Linked DNA regions of Homo sapiens: all the other regions are linked to region 5. Evidence: fine-mapped expression QTL. A gene starts in region 5. Each other region holds a variant in brackets. All regions are shown on one strand. Distances are from middle to middle. Region 1 overlaps GAK (cyclin G associated kinase). Region 2 overlaps GAK (cyclin G associated kinase). Region 3 overlaps GAK (cyclin G associated kinase). Region 4 overlaps GAK (cyclin G associated kinase). Region 5 holds the start of GAK (cyclin G associated kinase).

Region 1 (5,098 bases), 38 kb before region 5:
TCTGCCCATCTGCCCAGCGGCACCTCCTCCCGCCCCATCAAGAATCCCTCCAGCGCACTCGACAAAGCAAGAGGCCCACACCCCCCTGCGAGCCCACTGTCCTCTGTGACCTCCGGGGGAGTGGGCAGGCATTTTCTGTAAAGAGCCACCAAGCGAGGGGGACACGAGGCCCAGGCTGCTAAAGAGCAGGACGGCCCAGGAGTGATCCCTTCCTGCCGCTCTCTGACAGCCCCAGGGAAGCTTGCTGAGAGGCCACCAGTGACATCAACTCTCCCGCCTCAGAGCGCCCCACACCTCAAAATGCTTCCAGCACCCAGCACCAGGGCTCCCTCTGCTGGTGCACCCACCATGATGGCCGCCAGAGAGGGGCACCACAGCCTCTCCCCGTCTGCACTGGGCTTCCCAGCACTTCCCTGCTCCCAGGTCTCTGTACCCACGCGGCCCCCAAGGAACTGCAAACCCTCCACACAGCCCAAACCTTCCTTGTCCCACAGGGTCCTGTCCTCAGACAGGGACTCCGGGCAGCAGCTCTGACCTTCTCCCCACGCTCCACACCCACCGCCTGGGTCAGCTCCACTGCAGTGGCCCCTGGAAGTTCCGGCTTCCAGCTACCAGGGAGTGGAAACGACCCAAGGGCTGAAAAGGGGACAAAATGCAGGAGCCAAGAGTCCTGGGTCCTTGGACACAGACCCCTGCGAGATCTGCAGAGGGGCCCTGCGTGTCCTGACTGGGCCCTGAGCTGGGATGCCCAGGGGCCTCCCTGCTCCCCGTGGGTGAGGGCCGGGCCGCGTGTCTGCTCTGCCTCGAGGATCTGGTGATGGAGATGCTGCACCCTGTCCACGGCTGGGTCAGAAAAGACTCTGAGGAAAGCATCTTCCAGCCAACACGTGCTGCTCCCTCCCAGGCCTCACACTTCCACAAAGCACACGGCCCTGTGGGCCTCAGTCTCCCAGCCCCCAGGCCCTGATGCTGCCAGCAGCCACCGGTGCCTGGGAGTGGACCCTGGCCAGGCCCAGCCCTGACACAACTGCAACCAGGACGCCCAGAGCTGAGCTGAGGGTCAGAAACACAGACGCAGAGCAACTCAGGACACCCCAGGACGCCCAGAGCTGAGGGCTGGCTGACCTGGCTTGGACACCAGACCCCAGAAACAAAGACACAGGAGCAATTCATGCTGTCCTGTCAGGGGAAGAATCTAGAAAGGCGCCTGCAAACCTCAAGGAGGCCAGAGGAGCGCGTGCAGAGTGCGAAGACCTTGGCAATGGTCCCAGCATGCCCCCGGGGTCTCGGCCCTGGGCTGCGGTGGTGACCCTGCTCCTGCAGGAGCCCAGGGCCCTCAAGAGCTTGTGGCTCCCCACTGAAGTGGGCAGAGACCCCCAGGGTGCAGGGTCCGGACGAAGCAGCACAGCCACATGCCACCCTCCTCTCTGTGGGGGGATTTGGGGCTCACATGTGCCTCCCTCCCCTCTGTGATAGGAAACTTGGGGTTCAGGTGTGCCTCCCGCCCCTCTGTGATAGGAGACTTGGGGTTCACATGTGCCTCCCTCCCCTCTGCGGGGGATCTGGGGCTCACGTGTGCCTCCCTCCCCTCTGTGATAGGAGACTTAGGGTTCACGTGTGCCTCCCTCCCTTCTGCAGGGGATCTGGGGCTCACATGTGCCTCCCTCCCCTCTGCGGGGGATCTGGGGCTCATGTGTGCCTCCTTCACCACTGCGGGGGATTTGGGGCTCACGTGTGCCTCCCTCACCTCTGTGATGGGAGACTTGGGGTTCACGTTGCGGGCGGCCGCGATCTCCTGCAGCTGGTGCACCACCTCGGCGATGGACAGCCGCTCCTCCGGGTTCACCTGCAGCATGGCGCCTGCAGCAGAAGCACAGCGCGCTCGGCCCCACGGTTCCCCAGGCGGGTCAGCACCCCCTGCACTGGCAGAGGTCACAGACCACCAGAGGCCACTCCCTCTACACACATCAGTGACGTCAGAAGCAAGAAGGGAGCGGCAAAGGGAAGAACAAAAACCGAACAAAATGATCAAAAATCACCACTCAGAGCACCGCAAATTCACCAGCGGGGTGGGCGGCAGGGGAGCTCTCTGGAAACCCCCCCCCCAGGGATGTTGTCAAAACTATGGTGACGGGCGGGAGTGGGGCCAGGTGAGCAGTGCCCCAAGGGGAGCGGGGTCTCCAGAGCCACGCGGGGTCTGTGCTCCAGGGTCCTGCCCCACGCACGCATTCCACCGGGACTTACGGATGAGGCTGTGGAAGACCGTGTACTGCGTGTCGTGCGGGGGGATCGAGTACTTCCCATTGACTATTCGAAGTTTCGCTCCATCCTCAAAAGGGTGCTGCCGGAAGCACAGCAGGTACAAGATGCAGCCCAGGGCCTGCGGGGAGAGCAGGGGTGATGCCTAGGCCCACGGGGAGCGCAGGGGTGACGCCTGGGCCTGCGGGGAGAGCAGGGGTGATGCCCAGGCCCACGGGGAATGCAGGGGTGACATCGGAGCCGTGGGGAGCGCAGGGGTGACACTGGGGACTGCAGGGAACACAGGGGTGATATCGGGAACATGGGAAATGCAGGGGTGACACCGGGGCCTGCGGGAACAACAGGGGTGACACCCGGGCCGCGGGGAGCGCAGGGGTGACGTTGGGGCCGTGGGGAGCGCAGGGGTGACGCCTGGGCCTGTGGGGAGTGCAGGGGTGACACCCAGGCCTGCGGGGAATGCAGGGGTGACGTCGGAGCCGTGGGGAGCGCAGGGGTGACTCCTGGGCCTGCGGGGAGTGCAGGGGTGACTCCCAGGTCTGAGGGGAGAGCAGGGGTGATGCCCGAGCCCAAGGGGACAAGGGCGTGAGAGGAGCACCGCAGACATGGTGACTGGCCGAGGGGTGGCTCCTTCCTTGGGGATCCTAGGGGTATAGTCGGTGGTTACACAAACATCACTTGACTGTG[C/A]GGAGCTGGCGGCGTGCTTCCCACGGCACGGGGAGGCCTGGATGCTCCACTTCTATTCACCGCAAAGAACTGTCCAGGTGACAGTGTTAAACGGACTCTAGGCTCTTAAGATTAAAAAGTTCCGTTCAGGCCGGGCGCAGTGGCTCACGCCTGTAATCCCAGCACTTTGGGAGGCCGAGGCGGGTGGATGACAAGGTCAGGAGTTCAAGACCAGCCTGGCCAACATGGTGAAATCCCGTCTCTACTAAAAATACAAAAATTAGCCAGGCGTGGTGGTGCATGCCTGTAGTCCCAGCTACTCAGGAGGCTGAGGCAAAGAACTGCTTGAACCCGGGAGGCAGAGGTTGCAGTGCGCCGAGATCGCGCCACTGCCCTCCAGCCTAGCAACAAAGCGAGACTCTGTCTCAAATAAATAAATAAATAAATAAATAAATAAATAAATAAAGGTTCCTTTCAAAATTCCGGGGTTCCCACACTCATGCACTGAAGATCTATGAGCTGGTGGGACCAGCACAGACCCTGCTGTGTGCTATGCGAGGGGCAAGGCACCTGTCCTGTCCTTGGCAACAGCAGAGACCCACTTTTCAGAACTGACCCCATATGCAGGGTGTAGGGCACAGGGCAGAAGCTGCAGGAAGCAGCCTCCTCAGTCTGCTCAGGATTTTCGCAGAACTGGCCTTGAACAATCAGCGACTTCTCGTCAATCACCCAATATGTGAGCCCAGAGAAGGGACTGGTGATTACTTCGGCATCAGGATCTTATCCAGCCAAGAGTAAGAGCTCACACCGGGACCCCAGGCCGAGCAAGAGCCGGCCAGGAGTGTCCTCGTGCGGGATGTGCAGAGGACCAGTCACCAGGGTGGGCCAAGAACACAGGCAATGACCACACACGTGGCCCCATCCTTCCACACTCCTCAAGGGACACAGGGCCTCAGCCTACAGCCCACATACTGTCTCAGCCTGCAGCCCCACGTGCTGTCTCAGCCTTCAGCCCATGTGCTGTGGCTGATGGCACGGCTGACCCGGTCCGTAGGCAAATACACTACGGAGGGCCAACTGCCGCACCTGGTGGCTGAATGACGGGGTAAGGGGACGTCAAAAGAACCACAAGGCAGGACACCCTCCACGCGTGGTCACCCTCGGTCAATGGGGACATGGCCTTGGAGAGATGCAGGGATGAGGGAGGACGCAGGAGACCACCCCAGCCATCAGGCTCAGCCCTCACTCTGGCCTGGCTCTGAGCGCAGCAAGGCTGGGGTGTGGCAGGGACACTCCTGGGCCAAGGCACTCAGGGCCAGATGCACAACAAGCCATGGACGGGGCCGAGGGGAGCCTCAGGCAGACCCAGCCGCACAGGACGCCCCCAACTGCTACTCGACTCATCCCTATTAGAAGTAGTCAAGGTTGGGCAGGGTGCAGTGGCTCAAGCCTGTAATCGCAGCACTTTGGGAGGCTGAGGCAGGTGGACCGCTTGAGCTCAGGAGTTCGAGACCGGCCTGGGCGACATGGTGAGACCACCCCTTCTACCAAAAATACAAAATAATAGCCGGGCATGGTGGTGAGCACCTGTGGTCCCAGCTACTCGGGAGGCTGAGGTGGGAGGATCCCTTGAGCCCAGGGGCGGGAGGCTGCGGTGAGCCTGAGCCGAGGTCACACCACTGCACTCCAGCCTGGGTGACAGAGGAAGACCCTGTCTCCAAAAAAACCCAAAAAAACAGTGGCAGCCACAGTGATTCTTAAGGAAAGGAAAAAGAAAAGGGGACGGGAGGGGAAGAGGGGGTGGAGGAGGCAGGCCAGTTCCGAGTGGCAGGTGCCCGGCCCACGCCGCCTCAGGTTAAGTAGGGCGCACGGAGCCAGGCACTGCCACTGAGAGGCGCCAGACCTCACCCAGATATCCTGCTTCTCGCCGATCGGGAAGTTGGAATACAAGTCTATGATTTCTGGTGTTCTATACATTGGTGTTGTATTCCTCGTGATCTGAAAAAATACAAACATTTCAAAGGAAAAGTTGCATCCCACAAACAGTATTTTTTATGTTGCACCACTTCCGTGCAGCTTTCCAAATGCACAGCAGACTGAGGGGCAGCCTGTCCCGCACACTATGCCCCGGGATGACCTCAGGCCAGTCGGCCCCATGCACCAGCTCCGCTGCTCA
Region 2 (5,098 bases), 48 kb before region 5:
GCACAGAAGCCTGTATTTGGCAGGGCCCTAAACACGCTGTGACTGTACTCATGTCTGAGCAGCGTCAGGTGCTCCACACGGCACCTGTGTCAGGTGCTCCACACGGCATTTTCACGTGCATTATCCACCAGAGCCCACCACATACATGGCATTTGTCAGAGAACCTAGGATCCATGCACAAGCTGGGCAGGTGCTGCCCCACAGCAGTCAGGACTACCGCGGCTGAGGGCCCATCCTCCCCGGGCTCTGCGGCCGTAAGCCCAGGGCTCAGCCATGGCTCCGCGAGGCCGGGCCTGCCTTTCCCACCAGCGCCTGCAGCGGCACCGACTGGCCCTCCAGGAGACACCACAGCGGGGGCGGCAGTGCCACACGGGCCCACAGAGCTGTCCCCTGTCCCCGGAGGGCCACGCAGTACCTTTTGTGGGATGGCCAGATGCCTGGTGGGCAGCGCTTCATGCTGAACATGTACACGGCGGCCTCCGCGGTGCTGAAGAGACGGCAGAAGCACAGGAAGGAGCAGACGGCCACAGCAGACGCGGCTCTCCCGTCCTAGGACAGACAGACACGTCTCGCGTGCGCCTCGCACTCATGCAGGACAAGGGCTCGCGGGGTCCTCGGGCATCCTACCCACCCTGTGGCTGCAGGGACGCAGGGCTGTTCCTCTCTGAAGCTGGGATATGTTTAGGGAGCTACATAACGTGCCTGCCGAGGCAAGAATGGAGCCCAACAGAGACTGAAGGTTCCCTAACGAAGAACAGGGCTAGGGCCACTCCAACAGGCTCTGCTGGTGCCCCGTACCCCGCAAAAGACCCCTCATGGAAACCTCAACTCCATCACCCACAGTGGCAGCTGCCACACCCTGGGAGGCTCAAGCACCACTAAGCCTCGAGCTGCAGATCGGGAAACTGGAAGTGACTCTTAGGTGGCCACCGAGCAGGAGGGGAGGTGGGCTCCCCACACAGCGGAGTGGCCTCCACACGGGCATGCAGGTCAAGGCCAGGAAGGGCCACATGGGGAGGGAAGGGCGGGGCCATCTGTCATCTGTCCCCTCCAGACCCAAAGACACCAAGCACAGGGACTTTCTTCCGTGTCCCAGGGTGAAGAACAGGCCCCAGCTCATGACTGGCGCTCAGATCCTGTTGAACTATGCATGAAATAATGAACTTTGACAGAAGACGGCGCCAGCCCACGGCCCTCGAGCTCACCATGCAGTGCACGACGCAGACGTTCTTGTGGTCCTGCCGCAGCCAGGCGTGCATGTTCCTGCAGATGTTGTACAGGGTGTGCAGGTGTGGGGCCCGCCGTGCTGCCCAGCCACACTCGGAGACCTGTGGGGACAGGGCACGGTGGCACGGACGGCAGAGGAGCCCCGCCCCAGCCTTGGTCAGCTAGGAGGGACAGCCTGCCTGCAGTGCGGGGGCCTCCGCCAGCTGGTGTCATGAACAGGCGTCCACCTGCGCGAGACCTGAGCACCAGGGCTGCCACTGGCCTTGCAGACAGAGCTCAGTCAGCTGTTCCTGGGCTTTGGGTCCCTTTGCATACTGACAAGTGTCGTGTCTGGAAGGAATGCCTCGGCCTCGAGCACCCTCTGGCTGGTGGGAAGCAGTGAGGAGCTGGGGCCTCCAGAGTTCCCGGCAAGCGGCATCCTCAGAGCAACAGAGACCCCACCTCGCCCCCTCCTGTCCCACGCTCTGCAGCCCCTCAGGAGACCTCCGGCCGCCCCCATCACAGCCCCACCCTGGCCAAAGCCCTCAGCTATGCCCCTGCACTGGAGCGGAAGGAAGCTCCAGAGTGGCACCAAGACAAAGCCTGTGGCCACACACCCGGTTGTGGAACCTGGAGGGCCGGTAGGTCCTCGGGGACAGGTTGTAGACGGCATAGTGCCCTGGGTGCTTGGAGTCCAGGAACAACCGCACATCTTCGATGTTGTTTTTGAGCGCTGACTCCACACCTTCTGCTGGGAATGACATCACTGAAACAAGCAGACCTGCGTCAGCACCTGGGAGATGCGCACCTCGTGGCCAGGCTGCTGCTGCGGCCTCGCTGCTCCTGACGCCCCCGGGCAAGCGCAGCCTCCGGCAGCTCCACCAGCCACTGCCCACACAGCCGGCCCCCTCACCCTCCGTGGACTCCCAGCCTGGGTGGACCTAGGAGCATGGACCCAGCCACACGCCCATCAGCCGGTGGCTGGGACTTCCTGAGACAGCTTTCTGACACCTGCCCTGTCTCCAGGTGTCGGGATGAGTGACTGGGATGCCTGGTGCACAGAGGCCCTGGTTTTCCACGGACACGGCCTTGTGTTGTTCCTGGCATGACCTCAGGGAGCCATGGGAGGCCAGGCTGGCGCTGACCCTGTCCACTGCTGCGCCTGGAGGTGCTGAGCACAGGCCGCCTGCCTGCCAAGGGGCCCCAGGTCACCCCTGTGAGTC[T/C]GTGGCCACAGAGAAGGCTGGAGCAGAGGCACCTGTGCCCTGACACACAACAGGGACTCACTGGGCACACAGGGAAGGGCCGGGGCGCGTCCCACAGCCTCATGTGGCACGCATACCTGCAATTCTGGATGTGATGTAAGATATGTCCAGGTCACCCTTTGCATAACTGGAATTAAAAAGAAGAGAACTTGGTTATGACAAGAAACACTCCGCAGTTAGGTCACAGGGCTTAAGCCAGAGCCCGAGGCCTGGAGAAGCCGTGGGGCTCTCACTGTAGAGGCCGCATCCCAGGAGGAACGTGTGTGTGCACAGGCGTGTGGGCAGCTTCCCGGCTGTGTGCGTGCTGTGGAGCTGACCCCTACATCAGAAACGGATGGAAATGACAGCCTGCAGCTGGTGGAGGCATGGGTGAGACAGGAGAGACATCCGCTGTCTGACTGCCCCTTCCCCTGCGCTCTCCAGGGAGGCACGGCCCAGGAGTGGGCTGGGAGAGGGATGGCAACACCGGTGGAAGGGGAGGGCTGGAGAGCAAGGGTGGCTTGGACGATGGTCACGGGTCATGCCAGGCTCCACGCGCTGCCCAGGCCTGGTGGTTGTAGCAGTGCGACTCCAGCAGACGCCGCTGGAGGCAGAGAGGGCCCCCTGCCCTGAGTGCCTAGAAGCCCCTGCTGTGGCCACAGCCAACTCTCTACAGACCAACTGCCCCCAACACTGGGTCCACGGAATCGGTAACACAGAGATCAAAACCCTCAATAACTCTGCAAGGACCCTGACAGGTTTATCCCACAATTCACTGGCAGCAGCAGCTGTGTAAGAATGGCCAAGCTGTTCTTGTGAGGGAAGGAGCAGAAGGGAGCCTCCCTCCCAGGACAGAGCAGGCCGGAGGCTGCGGGGACCAGAAAGGCTGGGCTAGGAGCAACCTCAGCTAGGCACATCGCAGAGGTGCTGTCCCCATCAGAGGAAAGCCTGGATAAAGGTCCAGAGAGATGAATGACCCAAATACACACGACCGAACCATCGCCTGAAAGTGACCATGCGTTCAAACGTTTTAAAAGCCGTCTAAACCCGCAGAGCAGGTGCTGACATAGGATGCGGGTCTTCCGTGCGTTCAAACGTTTTAAAAGCCGTCTAAACCCACCGAGCAGGTGCTGACTCAGGATGCGGGTCTTCCGTGCGTTCAAACGTTTTAAAAGGCGTCTAAACCCACCGAGCAGGTGCTGACACAGGATGCGGGTCTTCCAAAGCAACAAGGGAAGACGGGGAGGCACGGTGAGCCTGACGCTTGGCCACTTTTGCAGCAAGAGACAAACAGGCCACACAAAGCATGGCTACTGGACCTATAATCTAATCACCGGTAGAAAAACAAAAATAGGGGCCAGGTGCGGTGGCTCATGCCTGTAATCTCAGCACTTTGGGAGGCCGAGGCAGAGAGATCACCTGAGGTTGGGAGTTTGAGACCAGCCTGACCAACATGGTGAAACCCCCACTGCTCCTGTACCACGGCAGGCAGCGGCAAGCACAGCAAGCTGACACGCCTTAAGCAAAGGTGGGCATTGAGTGCCACAGGATCCACGCACATCTCACCCACCCCAGCAGCCCTGCGGGGGCCCCATGGACCTGGCTGTGTAGGCCTCAGGCACGTGTACCACAGGTGTGTGTGTGCTAGGGCTGCACCGGATGCTGACGGGACAGAAACCAGGGCCCAGACACAGGGCTCAGGCCCCGAGGCCCTGGCTTCAGAACAGCAAGCACCAGGGCAGCCAGGGGCTCATGGCCACCCAGGTCCTGACTCCTGGGCTTGTCCGTGGGGGAGAGCCAGAAGCACAAATGAATTCACTGTCCTTTTTTTTTTTTCATTTTTTAAATTGAGGCAGGGTCTTGCTCACTCCAGGCCAGAGTGCAGTGGCACAATCACAACTCACTGCAGCCTCAACCTCCTGGGCTCAAGCGATCCTCCCACCTCAGGCCCCAGTGTAGCTGGGACCACAGGTGCACGCCACCTCGCCCAGCTAATTTTTTATTTTTGTAGAGACAGGGTCTTGCTGTGTTGTTGTGTTGTCCAGGCTCGTCTCAATCTTCAAGTGATCCTCCCTCCTCGGCCCCCCGAAGTGCTGGGATTACACGAGCCACCGTGCCCAGCCATCTTTTGAGCCTCCAGGCCCAACCAGAACTCACTGTTGCTTCTAAGTCAACTTTACAAACACGAGGTTATGCAGCTTCATCTGCCTCAAGCACGTGATGTGAACAGAAGGCAGAGCAAAACAAACAGCAGGGCTGCCCTCAGCTGGAACCTGGGGGTGTCAGGAGGGTTCCCACCATCCCCTAACAAGCAGCAGCTAGCTGTGCCTGAGTGCCATGCAAGCAGCGCCTGCTCAAGCCAAACTGTGTCCTCCTAGGGCCTGGAACCCATGGGTCCCAGCAGAGCCATTTCTAGAACCAGCCCCTGCGGCCTTAGGCTTCCAGCAGACAGCAGCTCCCACCATCCCCACAGCTGCTGGGGAGGGAGCGTGGCCTGGAGTCCCCCAGGGAGGACTCTGGAGCTGTGCCCGGCTCCCTGAACGCCCCACATGCCTCCTCCCTCTGCTGACTCCACTCTGCCTGTCCCCACAATGTGCTGCGGCCATGGAGACCATTTTCACTGATGCCGAAAGTGACCGTTCCTAGTGACT
Region 3 (5,098 bases), 76 kb before region 5:
TCTCCTGCCTCAACCTCCCGAGTAGCTGGGATTACAGGCCTGTGCCACCACGTCCAGCTAATTTTTGTATTTTTAGTAGAGACAGGGTTTCTCCATGTTGGTCAGGCTGGTCGCGAACTCCCGACCTCAGGTGATCCGCCTGCCTCAGCCTCCCAAAGTGCTGGGATTACAGGCATGAGCCACCATGCCCGGCCGTCTCTCGCCCATTTTCTTTCTTTTTTTTTTTTTTTTAATTGATCATTCTTGGGTGTTTCTCGCAGAGGGGGATTTGGCAGGGTCACAGGACAATAGTGGAGGGAAGGTCAGCAGATAAACAAGTGAACAAAGGTCTCTGGTTTTCGTAGGCAGAGGACCCTGCGCTCTCGCCCATTTTCTAACTGGATTGCTTTCAGTTTGTTTTTGACTGTATTTTTATATTCTGTAGATGAGTCCTTTGTCAAATAGGTGGTTTGGAAATATCTTCTCCCAGTCCGCAGCTCAGATGCTCAGAGCTCTGAAGTTGGGTCCACCTGTCCTCTTATGGGTGTGGTTTGGGTGGCGAGTCTACGAACTCTGCCCAGCCCCAGGCCACAAAGGTTTTCACCTAAAGGCCCTGCATTCTGATGAGCTGTTCTGTAGAACGAGGGCTTAGGGCTTTGCCTACCGCTGCCCAGGTGCTCCAGACCATCTGATGAACGGGTTTTCTGCCTCTGTCAAAGCTCCGCTGGTCTCTCTTGTGTGGCCTGAGTCCTCTCTTCTCTCCACAGACGCGTCTGTCTGCCATCGCCGCAATGTTGATTTGTGGCTTCAGAGTAAGCCTCAAAGCCAGGAACAGTGACTTCTCCCATTTCATTTTTCCATTACAAAAATATTCCAGGCATGGCTGGGTGCGGTGGCTCACGCCTGTAATCCCAGCACTTTGGGAGGCCGAGGCGGGCGGATCACGAGGTCAGGAGATCAAGACCATCCTGACTAACACGGTGAAACCCCATCTCTACTAAAAATACAAAAAATTAGCTGGGCGTGGTGGCGGGTGCCTGTAGTCCCAGCTACTCAGGAGGCTGAGGCAGGAGAATGGCGTGAACCCGGTAAGGGAACTTGCAGTGAGCCGAGATCAGGCCACTGCACTCCAGCCTGGGCGACAGAGCGAGGCTCCATCTCAAAAAAATAAACTATTCCAGGCATCTAGTCCATCTGTCTTTCAAATACACTGTACAGTAAGCTCATTTGTATCTAGGAAAATCCCTGCTGAGGCGTTGGTAGGAACTGCGTTAGGCTACAGATGCACACAGGAGAACGGCCACCTTACTCGGGAGCCTCCAGGCCGTGAGTGCAGCGTCCGTCCCTTCACTCGCATCTCCTCTGGTCTCTTTCGCCACGGTTGGTTTTGTAGTCCCACCACACAAGCCCTAGACATGTCTGGTCAGATTTATACCTAAATGTTTATTTTTTCTAAAAAAAAAAAAGGTGATTGTAAATGGTACTGTTTTAAATGTTGGCTTCCTTATATAATTGCAAGTAAACAGAAATAGGACAGATTTTTGTGTGTTGACCTGGTATCCTGCGACCTTACTGAACTCATAGTTCTAAAAGATCTTTGTAGATTGCTTCAGAGTCCCTGCGCAGACAATCGTGTCATCTGCAGACAGGAGTAATTTTATTTCTCCCTTTGTAGTGCGTGTAACTTTGATCTCCTTTTCTTGCCAAATGGCAGCAGCTGGGACTTCCGACAAGTACAAGTGGAGAAAAGACACTCCTGCCCTGTTCCTGATTTTAGGAGGATGGTTAAAAATGATATTGGCTTGGCCAGGCAGGGTGGCTCATACCTGTAATCCCAGCACTTTGGGAGGTCACTTGAGATCAGGAGTTTGAGACCAGCCTGGCCAACATGGTGAAACCATGTCTCTACTAAAAATACAAAAATTAGCTGGGCATGGTGGTGCATGCCTGTAATCCCAGCTACTCAGGAGGCTGAGGCGGGAGAATTGCTTGAAACTGGGAGGTGGAGGTTGCAGTGAGCCAAGATTATGCCACTGCACTCCAGCCAGGGCAACAGAGCAAGACTCTTGTCTCAAAACAAACAAACAAAAAAAAGATGTTGGCTGCAGGTTTCTGGAGACAGGGTCTTGCTCTGCTGCCCAGACTGGAGTGCAGTGATGCAATAATAGCTCAGGCCAGCCTTGACCTCCTGGGCTCAAGCGATCCAAGTGATCTTCCCACCTCAGCTTGCTGAGTAGCTGGGACCACACCTGCTCACCACAGCTGCTCACCACACCTGCTCACCACCACAGCTGCTCACACCTGCTCACCACAGCTGCTCACACCTGCTCACCACAGCTGCTCACCACCACAGCTGCTCACACCTGCTCACCACAGCTGCTCACAACTGCTCACACCTCACCACAGCTGCTCACCCCTGCTCACCACAGCTGCTCACACCTGC[TCAC/T]CACAGCTGCTCACACCTGCTCACACCTGCTCACCACAGCTGCTCACCACAGCTGCTCACACCTGCTCACCACCACAGCTGCTCACCACAGCTGCTCACACCTGCTCACCACAGCTGCTCACTACAGCTGCTCACCACAGCTGCTCACCACCACAGCTGCTCACACCTACTCACCACCACAGCTGCTCACACCTGCTCACCACCACAGCTGCTCACACCTGCTCACCACCACAGCTGCTCACCACAGCTGCTCACCACCACAGGTGCTCACAGCTGCTCACCACAGGTGCTCACACCTGCTCACCACAGCTGCTCACACCTGCTCACCATAGCTCACCACAGCTGCTCACACCTGCTCACCACAGCTGCCCACATTTGCTCACCACCACAGCTGCTCACCACAGCTGCTCACCACCACAGCTGGCTAATTCTTACAGGGGTCTCACTATATTGCTCAAGCTGGTTTCAAACTCCTGGGTTCAGGAAATCCTCCCACGTTGGCCTCCCAGAGCACTGGGGTTACGGTGTGAGCCACTCCGCCTGGCCTGGCTGTGGGTCTCTAGACATGCTTGTTACCAAGCTGACGACGTTCTGCTCATGACTGGCTGACAGTGCTGCCATAAAAGGTGCTGACTTTCTGAATTTTGTTAAATGCCTTTTCTGCCTTGTTGATGTGACCACATGACTCTTCAGCCAGTTAATATGATATCAGATTAGTGCAAAAGTAATTACGGTTTTTGTGATTACTTTCAATGGCAAAACCACAATTACTTTCGCAGCAACCTAAATAGATTTTGTTAACAATTCTGAAATGTCAGCCTTGGATTCCTGGAATAAATCTTACTTGATCTTGGTGTAGAATTCTCTTTATATACCGATAAATCCTATTTGCTGAAGTTTGGTTGAGGATCTGTGTGTATATTCATGGGGAATATAGTCCCAGTTTCCCTTTCCGGTGCTGTTTCTGTCTGATTTTGGTATCAGGGTGATAGTATGAGCTTCGTAAAATCAATTAGAAAGTGCTCCGTCTCTCCTGCTTCCTGTGAGAGGGTGGAATTGGCATTCTCTTTCAACATTCGGTGAAATTCTCCAGTGGCCCAGGTGGGTCCGCAGGTTTCCTTTTTGGGAAGTTTTTAATTATGAATTTATTTTCTTTGTATTTATAGAATTTTTCAAAGGATCTACTTGATATTGGGTAAGTTGTGGCAGGAACTGGTTTTGAGGAATTTATCAATTTCACGTAAGTCGTCAAGCATACTGCACAGAGGCGCCTGCACCCGTGACCCTCGTAGAGCCTGCGGGGTCTGCAGTGGTGCCTCCTGCACCATCCCCCATATCGATGACCTGGGTCACTCTTCCCAGCAGCCCCGGGAGAGGTCTGTGGGCTTCAGAACTGGCCTCTGTCCCTGTGTTCCACTGCACTGCCCGTGGCTCCTCATTCTTTCTTTCCTTCCGCTTGCTGTAGGCTTATTTCGCTCCCTTTTTTTCCCCCCAAATGTCTTGTGCAGAGAGCTCAGGTTACTGCTGGGGCATTCCAGCTTTTCCACAGCAAGCCCCCACGGCTGCGGGTGTCTCCACACTGCCTGATGGGGCCCTGGGCTTTCCTAGGCTGCACTTGCATCTTCACTCAGCTCCACGCATCGTCTCCCTTGAGACCTCCTCTCTGGCCCAGGTGTCGTTTGAAAGTGTGCTGTTTTGTTCCCAAGTGTGAAGATTCTTCCGTTCTATTTCATTGTGGTCAGACGGCATGCTGCAGAATCCTAGTTCTCTGAGGACAGGGCCTGTGTGGAGGAGGCTCCCACGGTGCATGGAAAGGTCCGTGCCTGCAGCTGGTGGGCCCTGCTGGCTGGCGCCTCTGCCCTTCTACATCCTTGCAGCCTTCAGTACAGCTGCTCCGTCATGTGTCGGGACAGCAGTGCTGACGTCGCCAGCTATGATTTGGGTTTGTCTATTTTTTCCTTCAGTTGTATCGGCTTTGCTCTTCCAGAATTGCTGTCTTCCTAGAAGGCAGGATGGTTTCAGGCCGCCCACCGAGCCAGCAGGCGGAGGGCTGGGGCTGTGTCTGGGACACAAACGGCGGGGATCCCTGGGAGTCCACTCCTTCTGCCCCAGTGCCGGCTGCCCAGGGCAGTCAAGGCACACGCAGGTCTCCTCCCGAGGGCACGGCCCTCGCAACCCCACCGTGCTCTCAGACAACACAAGACAGAGGCCACAAAGGGAAATAAAATACAAAACCACACCGACAGAAACGCTCATGGATGTCCTCAAGACATAGTAAATCCCCAAAACCACCTGAAACATAAAAAGAACATTCAAAGACGAAAAAACTCTTGGGACTTCATGACAGAACAGAAGGCACTTCAGATGTGAGCTCGCAAGAGCAGAGTGAGGACTCAAAGCCAGCCCGGGAGAGAGTGAGGACTCGAAGCCAGCCCTAGAGATCCAACGCCGACACCTGCTCACAGGAATTTGAGGCACTCAGGGAAGGACAGGAGAAACGATGAGGAGACGGGAAATGCTCCCGGAGCTGAGCAGGAGCAGATGCCATAGCCTGGGGCTGCATGCTGGAGCGTCCGGGGGTCACCGGCACCAACAAGCATCCCAAGGTGGAGCCACTTCCCACCCAGCATTCCACCCGACGGCCAGGCAAGTGCAAGGGAGGCCCCTTCAGAT
Region 4 (5,098 bases), 83 kb before region 5:
AACCTCCGCCTCTCAAGGTTCAAGCGATTCTCCTGCCTCAGCCTCCCGAGTAGCTGGGACTACAGGTGTGTGCCACCATGCCCGGCTAATTTTGTATTTTTAGTACAGACGGGGTTTCTCCATGTTGGTCAGGCTGGTCTCCAACTCCTGACCTCAGGTGATCCGCCTGCCTCCGCCTCCGCCTCCCGAAGTGTTGGGATTACAGGTGTGAGCCACCGCACCGGCGTCTATTTTGCTTTTTAAAAGACTGCCGGCCGGGCGCGGTGGCTCACACCTGTAATCCCAGCACTTTGGGAGGCCGAGGCGGGTGGATCACGAGGTCAGGAGATCGAGACCATCCCGGCTAACACGGTGAAACCCCGTCTCTACTAAAAATACAAAAAATTAGCCGGGCGTAGTGGCGGGCGCCTGTAGTCCCAGCTACTTGGGAGGCTGAGGCAGGAGAATGGCGTGAACCCGGGAGGCGGAGCTTGCAGTGAGCCGAGATCCCGCCACTGCACTCCAGCCTGGGCGACAGAGCGAGACTCCGTCTCAAAAAAAAAAAAAAAAAAGACTGCCAAGCGGTTTTCCAAAGCAGTTGTGCCATTTTAAGCTCCCACCCAGACTGCGTGAGGGTGTGGGCTTCTCCACATGCGTGGGGACACTTGGCTTGGTGGGTCTTGACTGGGTGCCCTAGTGGGTGCGGCAGCATCTTGCTGTGGCTCCAACTTGCATTTCCTCCAGGACCAGTGATGTGAGCATCGCTGCTTGGCCGCTGCCATTTGTATCTCCGTGAAGTCACCGAGAAGATGCTGTCACACAAGGGGGTGTCACACAGGTGCAGTCTCTCTTCAAGCTTCACGTGGTCTATGCATTACAACCCGGCAAGGATGACCTTGTGTCCACGTGCAGGACGGAGCATAGTCACAGGCTCGGTGACCGCAGACCCGGCTCCCACGTGCAGAATGGAGCCTCAGTGACTGTGGGTAGCACTCAGGCCAGTGGCCGGCTGGGAAGATGGTGCATCCTGGGCCTTTCACGTGTGGGTGTCCGGGTGGCGCCGTGCGTGACCCTGTGCAGCCGTGTCTGCGTGTGCGCAGGTGTCCGGGTGGCGCCATGCGTGACCCTGTGCAGCCGTCTGCATGTGCGCAGGTGTCCGGGTAACGCCGTGCGTGACCCTGTGCAGCCATGTCTGCGTGTGCGCAGGTGTCTGGGTGGCACCGTGTGTGACCTTGTGTAGCCGTCTGCGTGTGCGCACGGCTTGTACATGCCTGTGCACCTGCGTGTCTCCATGCTGAGCTGAATGGTTGGAAGAGGAGAAATTCTGGCGGTAGCATGGCCAGGTGGGGGCCACAGACTCCCTTCTGAGCTGGGTCAGCCTGGATGGGGGTTTTCCTGTCCTGCAACCCAGACCCCACCGTCCTGGCCTCCATTCTATGCACTCCATCTCAGCCTACCCCGGACCAGTGACCTGCTGCACTCCACACCTTCCTCCATCCTCCGCAGTCTCGGCCTAGCCTGGACCGGCCACCCGCTGCTCTCCACACATAACCAGAGGCTCAGGCCCCTGACGGAGGAAGGGTGTGCAGCCAGCCAGAGGGAGGTGGACTCACTTGTCCAGGCAGGGTGGCTGGGTTTGCCACAGGCCGGGGAGAAGCGACCCAAGCTTTCAGAGTTAAGGGTCTGGGGCGGGGTCTGGGGGATTAGTTTGGAGCTTGGGTGTGACGTGGGCGGCAGCAGGAGAGGAGGGGGCCGCACAGCACAGGGCTGAGGCTGGAGAGCCTAGAGGGAGCGTGGCCCGAGCTGCCCCCAGAGCAGGAGCATCTGAGTTGGGGTGGCCAGACCCGGAGCCGGAATCCAGACGACCTTGATGTGAAAATCTCAGCACCTATTTAGCTTCTCATTATTTTTTAAAAGAGCTAAAAATAGTGGCGGGTGCATAGCAAACGTGCAGTCATTATTCTCTGAAAACAGGAAGAGCCTGGCGGTGAGTTCAGGGCTATGATTCAGGGCCTCCTCGAGTCTGCTGTGGGGTGGGGGCTCACCATGGTCACCTTCTCCTTCCAGGGGCCCCTGGTCCTCCACCAGCCCGACAGCCCGGAGGCCACCTTGGCCCTGCGGGGATGGCACAGGGGCAGTGTGGAGCCCACCCTTGCTCCTAGGTCCAGGGCCCAGGGGCAGGGGCCAAGTGGAGAGGAGAGAGGAGTCCCGGGGCCGAGGGGAGGAAGGGGGTCTGGGGACTGCAGGGGCCCCCGCCCTTGGCCTTGCCCTGGCTGGGCTCTATGGCCCCCTGAAGAGCTGCCCAGAGCCGCTGCAGCCCCGGGACCCGCTTCTCCTCTCCACTCGGCCCCTGCAACAATCCAACCACGGCAAGGTTGCTGAGGAAGCACAGCCTTGTGCCCCAGCTGGTGAACGGCACCTGGGCGAGTGGATCCACACTGGAGACACAGCAGTCATCGGAAAATAGTTTAATTCTGTACAGACAACCACGGGACTGATTACAAAGTGCGGTGCAAACACCAGGGCCCATGAGCGCCAGCAGCGTGGCCCACCACGTGCCGGGGCTCCAGAG[G/A]CCACGCCCGAAACACCAAATAAATCACAGACGTGACAATTGCGGGAGGAGCATGAATCAGCTGTTCCTTCGGGAGGAGAAAAAGGAAACAACAATCAGAGGCTTTGGAATGCTTTCTCTTCATGTGCCTGGAACGCTGGGCGGGCGGTGACCCGGGGCTCGGAGCCCCACCCTGGCCACACCTGCTGTCGCCCACGGGGTCCTCACGGTGGGGACCCAGGTCCCACGACGGCTCCCAACCTGTGGAGCTGTGTGCGCAGCCACCACCACTGCGGCCTCAGAAGAGGGGCCGGGAGCCCTGGTTCTCAAACTCCGACCAGGCGTCATTCAGCTCCATGAAGATCATCTTGGCGTGCTGCTCGTACGGCTGCCCCGCAGCCTATGGGTGACAGGCGGTGTAAGCGCCTCTTATAAGCATGCGGGGGCGGGCGGGGCAGGACCCCCCCCCCGCCCCGCCCCTGAAGGCCTCAAGCGGCCGCCTGGCAGCTCTGCTCACCTTGTCGGGGTGCACAGCCAGCACCGCGCGGCGATAGTGCTTCTTCACTTGCTCCGGAGCCACCAGGTCGGCCATGCCCACGGGCGTCCAGCGGCTCTCCCCGTCCCACAGCACTGTGTGCAGCGTGGACAGCAGGGCCCGGATGTTCCGCTCCTTGCCCTCAATCCAGTCCAGGAGCTGCGGGAGACACGGAGCTTGCCGAGCCCTGGGCACCTGCCTGCCCTCCTCCTCTGCACCGCGGAAACTGAGGCACGACGCTGAGGAAGTGCCTGGTCACGTGGGGTGGGCTCAGCCCGGCTCACAGACACTGTCCCACTGCACGCCCTGCCCTCAACTATATAGAGCCCACTCCGGACGACACAGGGCCAGGTGGTCTTCATGTTTCAGGGCCTGGGGCCAGAGGGACCCTCGTCTCAGCCAGATGTTCACCGAGGACACAAACCCTGGTTCTGGTGGTGCAACCCCTTGGCCCATCCCAGGCCCCAGACTCCGAGGGAGAAGGGGATGGTCCCTGGTGCCTGTGAAAGGACCCCAAGGTCACAGGCGCATGTGGCCTGCAGAGCTGGGCATCGGCCAAGCCACAGAGCAGGGCGTGTCTCAGGGCCGGCACAGTGACAGCCTGACCGCTGCATCCTCACCCCCCAGTGAGCGTCCTGGGTTGGGAGGCTCAGTACCCAGAGCAGCCCCCAAGAGACGCCTGCCCTCAACAGTCTCTGCAAACACCCCGGGGCACTCACTCCTGTAACGCCCGCCCACCCCACCCCCACCAGCGCTGAGCCATCTGGGCACGTGGGGAGCAGCACAGCCTGGGGCCTGACTCTGCCCTGCCCCCCTGGCCTCAGGCCACCCTGTCCTTGAGGGCTGCCAGGCCCATCGGCAGTGACAGGTCCCTGTCTGGAGACGCCGGCTCCATGTGGTACAGCAGATGCTCCAGGGGTGAAAGGTTGCTGTCTGGAGACGCCGGCTCCATAAGGCACAGCAGATGCTCCAGGGGCCATGGGTTGAGGCCTCTGGGCTCCCAGGAAGAGCTGCCCACCCACCCACCTTCAGCTTGAGTGGGTCCGTGTCTTTAGCCAGGTCCTGCTTCCTCATCTCTGCAATGGTCTTTGGCCCTTTCTTGTCAGACCTGGAGGAGAAGCCTTGATTGGACAACAGATCTTCAAAGTCGTTCTCAGAGACTTTTGGCTTTTGAGCTAGAAAAGAACAGAAACTTTTTTTTGTTTGAGACAGGGTCTCCACTCTGTCACCCAGGCCAGAGTGCAATGGCGTGATCTCAGCTCTCTGCAGCCTTTGCCTCCCGGCCTCAAGCGATCCTCTTGCCTCAGCCTCCCAAGTAGCTGGGACCACAGGCATGCGCCACCATGCCTGGCTAATTTTTACATTTTTTGTAGAGAGGAGGTATCACTGTTGCCCAAGCTGGTCTTGAACTCCTGGGCTCCAGCGATCTGTCCGCCTCAGCCTCCCAAAGTGCTGGGATTATAGGCGTGAGCCACAAAGCCCAGTTAAGAACAGAAACTTTCTGCAGAGACACACAGGCCCAATTCCACCTGCTGCCCCCGGGAACAGGGCTACCATCCTGATGCCTCCAGAGTAAAGAAGAGGGAAGACAAGACAGGGTTGCAAAGGCCATTTGTTAAAAACAGGTCAAGAAGGTGTCACTGGAACAAGAGGGACCCAGAGGCCTGACCCAGAGAGAGACCAGTGAACACACATCGGAAACCGCGTCGTTCTCTGAGTGGCTTGGCCGTGCCTGTCCCAGGACTGGGCTCTGAGATGAAGAAAACAACATAGGTTCTACCTTTAGCCAATTCAGGGAGGTCTCTGCAAACTCCACAGCAACAGAGAGTGGGGGACTCACCAAAGCTGGGTGCGCGGACCCCCCGCTCCTCCCGCGCCCCGATCACACTGAAGTTCGAGGCATAGTTAGGCCTTGGCTGTGTGCAGGCTTTGGGGGGCGGCTTGGCCTGAGGGGGCCATGAGGCGCCCTGGGCTGGCGGCCGACTTGTCTGCCAGGAGCTGCTGCCTTTGGGCGTGGTGGCCGTTTTGGGAAT
Region 5 (5,098 bases):
TCCTGGTCTATCATAATAACCTCATTTGGGATAAAACCTGACATGAACTGATATGGGGTTAATTACAGACTTTAATTATCCCACAGTGAGAATATTTATTCATTTAATTACAGAAATATTAATGTATTCAATTACAGAATACTTTCCCAAGTCTTCTGGGAGTATCCCACGATATACAGGTTATATGCTGCAATGACCATTCTGAAACCTGAAAAATTCTGGAAGTGTAAACATCTGTACTCAAGGGTTCAGATTACCAGCCATCACCATGTTTACACAAGACAGCCTAAACTCCCATAGCCTATGTTCTAAGGTTGCTGTTCAGACAAAACTTAATTAAGTATGTTTATATAAAATACTTAATTCAGCTTTCACACTCTGTTTCAGTTCAAAGAGGCTTCAAAGTACTTAGGAGGCTGCAGGCCACCTATTAAGTTTACAAGGAGGAAATCTACAGCTCCTAATTGCATTGGTTATTTTTATCTCCTGACTTGCCTAGATAGCAAAGGGAAACAAGTTCTTTTGCACAACCTCAGCAGCTGCCCACATTTCCTTGTTCTTCTTCCTGGGTGCTAAGTGACCCACAAGCTTCTTTCTTTATACGAATCTTCCTCTCCGGGCCCCAGTGAGGGTGCATTCTCCATCCCTCCCACCAAGATCCGTGCCATCTTCTGCTTGGCCCCTTCCCAAAGCTCACACTGTCTGTACCACCCCTAAGGATCTGTCCCTGTGCTGCCTCTGTCTCTCCACCCCTTGAGCACAAGTCTGAAGTTCCAGAAAGCAAGTCCTGTCCACAATAAACTTCTTAAAGAATGAAGATAACCACCTAGTATTTTCAGAATAAATGATTTGATCTGAGAGAAATCTTCCAACTGATGTGAAAGAATATCACACTTCAGCCCCCACTTCTGAAAGAAGAGCTTAGACTTTCTGACCAAATCATACCCAAAATCTGTTTGGTTTTGACCACAATGGAGACAAAGTGTGTGATAATGCTACAGTCAAAATGTCTCCGCAGGCCTTTTGTGATAATCAGAATTCTGGGATAGTCTCCTGTCTGGTCACAGAGCAGGCACCTGGACAGGCTAACCCTCCAGCCCTGAGAGGTACCAGGGAGCTGGTGAGGGTGAGGGCTTTTGTGTCGCTTCACTCCCTCTCCCTGTGCCAATACAGCAGAATAGAGTTACGCTTCCGCACCCAAGTCAACTGTGTTTAGCCCATAAACTTCACAGCCAGTGAAATATGACACACCTCCAGGCACCACTGGACAAAAAATGTAAGGAAAATCCACAAGAGAGAATGGGACCCACTGGCACTGGTGATCGATTCCGTGTGAACGGAGAGGACATCCAGGGAGCTAGAAATAGCATGCAGAGACAAAACTGACTCAAGACTGACTCAAGAGGACTTAAGCCGAGTGACCTGTCCACTCTGCAAGTTCTATATAGGTCACAACCACTGGCTCTGCTTCCTGTACTACACACGGAATCACACGAGTAGATGTTCACCGGGAAGAGAAACACTGAGGTGTTGAAAGACGAAGGGGGATCACGAGACACAGCCCAGTCTACCCTCGGCCAACCCCCCCACCCCCCAGGCTACAACCGCAACTACCTGCAACACGTGTGCACCCACCAACTCTCAAGTTCCCTGGACTGTAGAAGAACCAGCCCTAACCTCCAAAGTCCAGTCCTGTCCCTGCCTGCTCAATAACCCCAGATGTCCGGCAAAAGGCCAAGGCTTAAACCCACCTCCTGCACCGCTCACCTCCTGACTCCAGCTGTCGGCCTTCTAGGCACCGTCCCTCAGTCTCCGCTGTGGGTCCCCACCCAAGCTCCCTGCCTGCCACCATCCCCCACCTCACCGTAACATCTTCCCCCACCCACCCTGAGGGGGTTCCCCAAGCCCCAGGCCTTGCTCCGACTTGACCCTACTCTTATGACAAGAAAGTACCCCGACCCGGTCCCAGCCTCGCCCTCCGCAATCACCGCCAGCAGGCACTCACCTACGCCCGCGCTATGACCTTCGCCTGGCCCTGACCCACGCCCTCGGCAGAGACCCTCCCCTGGCCGACCCTGACCCACGATCCCGCTGGGACCCTCCCCAGCCCTAACCCACGCCCTTCCACTCCGGGCTGACGCTGCCCCCAGCGTCCCGGAGACAACACTCCGCGGCCGCACCCGCGCTGCCGACCCGGGGCCTCACCTTCGGCCAGGACCCGCCGCACCCGCAGCCGCAGCTCGCCCAGTTCCACCGTCTGCCCCACGAAGTCACTCTGGTCGCGGCCGGAAGCACCGCCCAGGGAGCCTGGACCCGCCAAGAAGTCGAGCGCCGACTGCAGCAGCGACATGGCGGTGGCTGCGCCGCACCCCGCGGCAGCCGGAGTGGTCGGGCTCGGGCTCCCGCTCCCTCGCCGTCCGGGTCAGCTCAGCAACCGCCGGCCCGGAGGTGCACCATCTTCCGCCTCGACGCCGTGACGTAGGCGCCCGTGAGGACGCGTCGCGTCAGGCGGCGACCCGGCCTAGCCCCGTCCCCTCCGCCGCGGCCTCACTTCCTGGCTGCGCGCGCAGGCGCGGAGGTCTGACGGAGACAGCGCGTGCGCGGCGTCGCCGGGCTTGCGATGAACTTCCGGCTGTCAAGCTCCCGGCCGGGCTGACTCAAGCGGAGGCGCGCGGAACAGTCGCCGAGGCGATTCCCGCCCAGGTAGTTCAGCGCCCCAGTCCAGCTCCCGGTACCGTTCCCCACATGGTCTGTTTTGTGGGAGGCTCCTTCTCAGGTGTCTCCGGTTTAAGCGCTTCGCCATCCTCTGGGTGGAGTCAGCCTCCCGTTTGCTGTTAGCGCCGCGTTTGCGAATGGGTTCGCGAATTTTTCTCTCAGTTGGCTAAGGAGCAAGGAGTTAGCGTGCGTTAAGCTTTCAGTAAATACTTGGTTTTCGTCTCATGGAGGTCGGAGTTTCCTGTGACGCTTAGTGAGTAAGGTTGGCAGCCCCCTCCCAGCAGCCAGGCAGGCAGTTTGCAGGGGAAACGCTGCTGCATTGCTCTGTCTTCCGAGGAGAGGGCCAGGGTCTGGCCTGGGGCAGTGACCAGTAGTGGGAGCCGTGGGCTAGAAAAACCTTCGTCCTGGGCAACCACAACACTGCAGAGACTGCCCTGTGACCCTCAAGGTTCGTTCTCACCCTGACATTTTCCAAGGCAAAAGCAAATCCTCATGAACCACTTGGAAGGGTTCGTAATGCCCAACTATTTGGAGATGAAATGGTGACTTTCCTTATAGGATAATAAGGAAATGGCTCACAGACAATGCATTTTTAGTTTTTGGCCCACACAGTATTTGGGGGTTGGGAGTGGGTAGCAGGAGGTGAATTAGTTGCTATCATTTAAAGACTGATGCCAGGCGCGGTGGCTTACACCTGTAATCCCAGTGCTTTGGGAGGCCGAGGCAGGCGGATCACCTGAGGTCAGGAGTTCCAGACCAGCCTGGTCAACATGGTGAAACCCCGTCTCTACTAAAAATACAAAAATTAGCCGAGCGTGGTGGCGGGTGCCTGTAATCCCAGCTACTCGGGAGGCTGAGGCAGGAGAATCGCTTGAACCCGGGAGGCGGGCGCCACTGTACCCTAGCCTGAGACTCCGCCTCAAAAAATAAATAATAATAATAATAATAATTGAAAGGCCTAAATGTTAAAAACCTAGTTTTCCAGCTTCTGTGGAAAAATCAAACCTGTCAATATTGGACCCAAAATGATGTGTGTTACCAATTACCTAGAGTGGTCCCTTGAGGTAAGACACAGTCATTTGCCTGACCAGATGGGCTCATGTATGTTACCTGCCTGGTTCCTATAGTCATTTAAGGTTGCAACCCCTTCAACAGAGTTATTTGTTCTCCAACTCAAAAATGGATTCTAAAGCTCACATCAGCCTCTTAGCCGTCCCAGAAGCTAACATCTGTTATCTTTATCATTAAAAGATAATAGCCTCAGCTCGTTGGAACACTTATCTATGTTATGGAATGAAGTATTGCATGAAGCCAAATGACATCTTTAAAAATATATATAACAAAAATAACAGTAGCAATAGCTTAGTTTAGGCACTGATTTATTGCTTACAACACCCTTTTCTGTAATAGTTCATTGTAGTGAAAACATCTTTGTGAAGAAAGCACAGTATAATTAACCCCCTTTATTTTGGGATGAGAAAATATGCTCAACAATGCCATTATTCGGCCAGGGCCAACAAGTGATACAACTGCAATTCAACGCAAGTCATGGCTTTTCCAGCCAGTGCGTTTGTCTGGTCGACTGTGGAATAGAAGGATAGAGAGCTCAGGAAAGAATCCCTGCTAGAGACAGATATCTGGGCATCCTCAGCATAGAGGTGGCAGTTGGCTCTAGGAGCTGAAGAGAGGACCAACAGAGATGGTGTACTAGACATAAAGAGGTTAGAATCTTCAGAGAATAGACAGTTTGTGGAGAAAGAGCAGTCAGTGAAGGAGGAAGAAAACCAAGAGAGTGTCGTAACAGAGCCAAGGAACGAGGATGTTCGGGGCAGAGAGTGCAGCTAAGAGTGTCGAATGCCACTTAAAAGTCAAGTAGAAAAAGAAATGGAAGATATGTGTTGGATTTATTCACAAGGGATCATTGGTGACCTCACCAAGAATAGCTTCATTGGAGTAATGAGGTGGAAGCTACATATTACCGTAGAGGGATGAAGAGATGATGAGGTAGAGATGGCAAGTGGAGATAACTCAAAATGTTTGTCTGTGGAAGAGAATATGAACAACTTCAGGCCAACAAATTCGGCACCCTTAGCTCCAGGGAGCTACAAGGGTGATGTAGTATTGAGATGTTTTAAGATGAGAGATTCTTGAGCAGCCTAAAGCGGATGGAAGGGAGAGAAGGTTTGCTGGTACAGAAAAAAGAGGAATAATAAGATAATTCTATCTTAATGAGATATCTTCTATCTCTTAGAACATAGGAGGGGAATGACATCAAGAGCATAGGTAGAGATATTTGCTTTGGACATAGGAAAAACACTCAGGAAGAAAAATGGGCTGCAGTTGTAGGTGACCTTATGTATTTATTGGAATGAAGGTGAAGGAA

The links.
Region 1: its variant is fine-mapped to the expression of GAK in whole blood (TOPMed, PIP above 0.99). The same link has a PIP of 0.9 or more in esophagus muscle, gastroesophageal junction, sigmoid colon and tibial artery.
Region 2: its variant is fine-mapped to the expression of GAK in whole blood (TOPMed, PIP above 0.99).
Region 3: its variant is fine-mapped to the expression of GAK in skeletal muscle (FUSION, PIP 0.90).
Region 4: its variant is fine-mapped to the expression of GAK in whole blood (TOPMed, PIP above 0.99). The same link has a PIP of 0.9 or more in B cells, monocytes, monocytes after interferon gamma and transverse colon.

The regions. Positions count from the first base shown.
Region 1 is chr4:891,630-896,727 of GRCh38, forward strand. It overlaps GAK (cyclin G associated kinase), which reads right to left. Exons shown (of 28, transcript NM_005255.4): 7 at 4,831-4,920; 8 at 2,245-2,380; 9 at 1,748-1,860. Among named protein-coding and RNA genes, the nearest start is that of GAK, 38 kb to the right of the region's middle. The variant C/A (reference allele first, on the strand shown) is at 2,944.
Region 2 is chr4:881,492-886,589 of GRCh38, forward strand. It overlaps GAK (cyclin G associated kinase), which reads right to left. Exons shown (of 28, transcript NM_005255.4): 12 at 2,546-2,595; 13 at 1,824-1,972; 14 at 1,206-1,328; 15 at 416-549. Among named protein-coding and RNA genes, the nearest start is that of GAK, 48 kb to the right of the region's middle. The variant T/C (reference allele first, on the strand shown) is at 2,430.
Region 3 is chr4:853,904-859,001 of GRCh38, forward strand. All of the region lies in intron 24 of GAK (cyclin G associated kinase), which reads right to left. Among named protein-coding and RNA genes, the nearest start is that of CPLX1, 30 kb to the left of the region's middle. The variant TCAC/T (reference allele first, on the strand shown) is at 2,423.
Region 4 is chr4:846,845-851,942 of GRCh38, forward strand. It overlaps GAK (cyclin G associated kinase), which reads right to left. Exons shown (of 28, transcript NM_005255.4): 25 at 4,906-5,098; 26 at 4,092-4,240; 27 at 3,048-3,224; 28 at 2,433-2,930. The coding sequence ends at 2,829. Among named protein-coding and RNA genes, the nearest start is that of CPLX1, 23 kb to the left of the region's middle. The variant G/A (reference allele first, on the strand shown) is at 2,552.
Region 5 is chr4:929,838-934,935 of GRCh38, forward strand. It overlaps GAK (cyclin G associated kinase), which reads right to left and starts at 2,479. Exons shown (of 28, transcript NM_005255.4): 1 at 2,206-2,479. The coding sequence starts at 2,350. TMEM175 (transmembrane protein 175) reads left to right here and starts at 2,623. Exons shown (of 11, transcript NM_032326.4): 1 at 2,623-2,703. RefSeq lists a silencer at 2,265-2,584 and an enhancer at 2,745-3,064.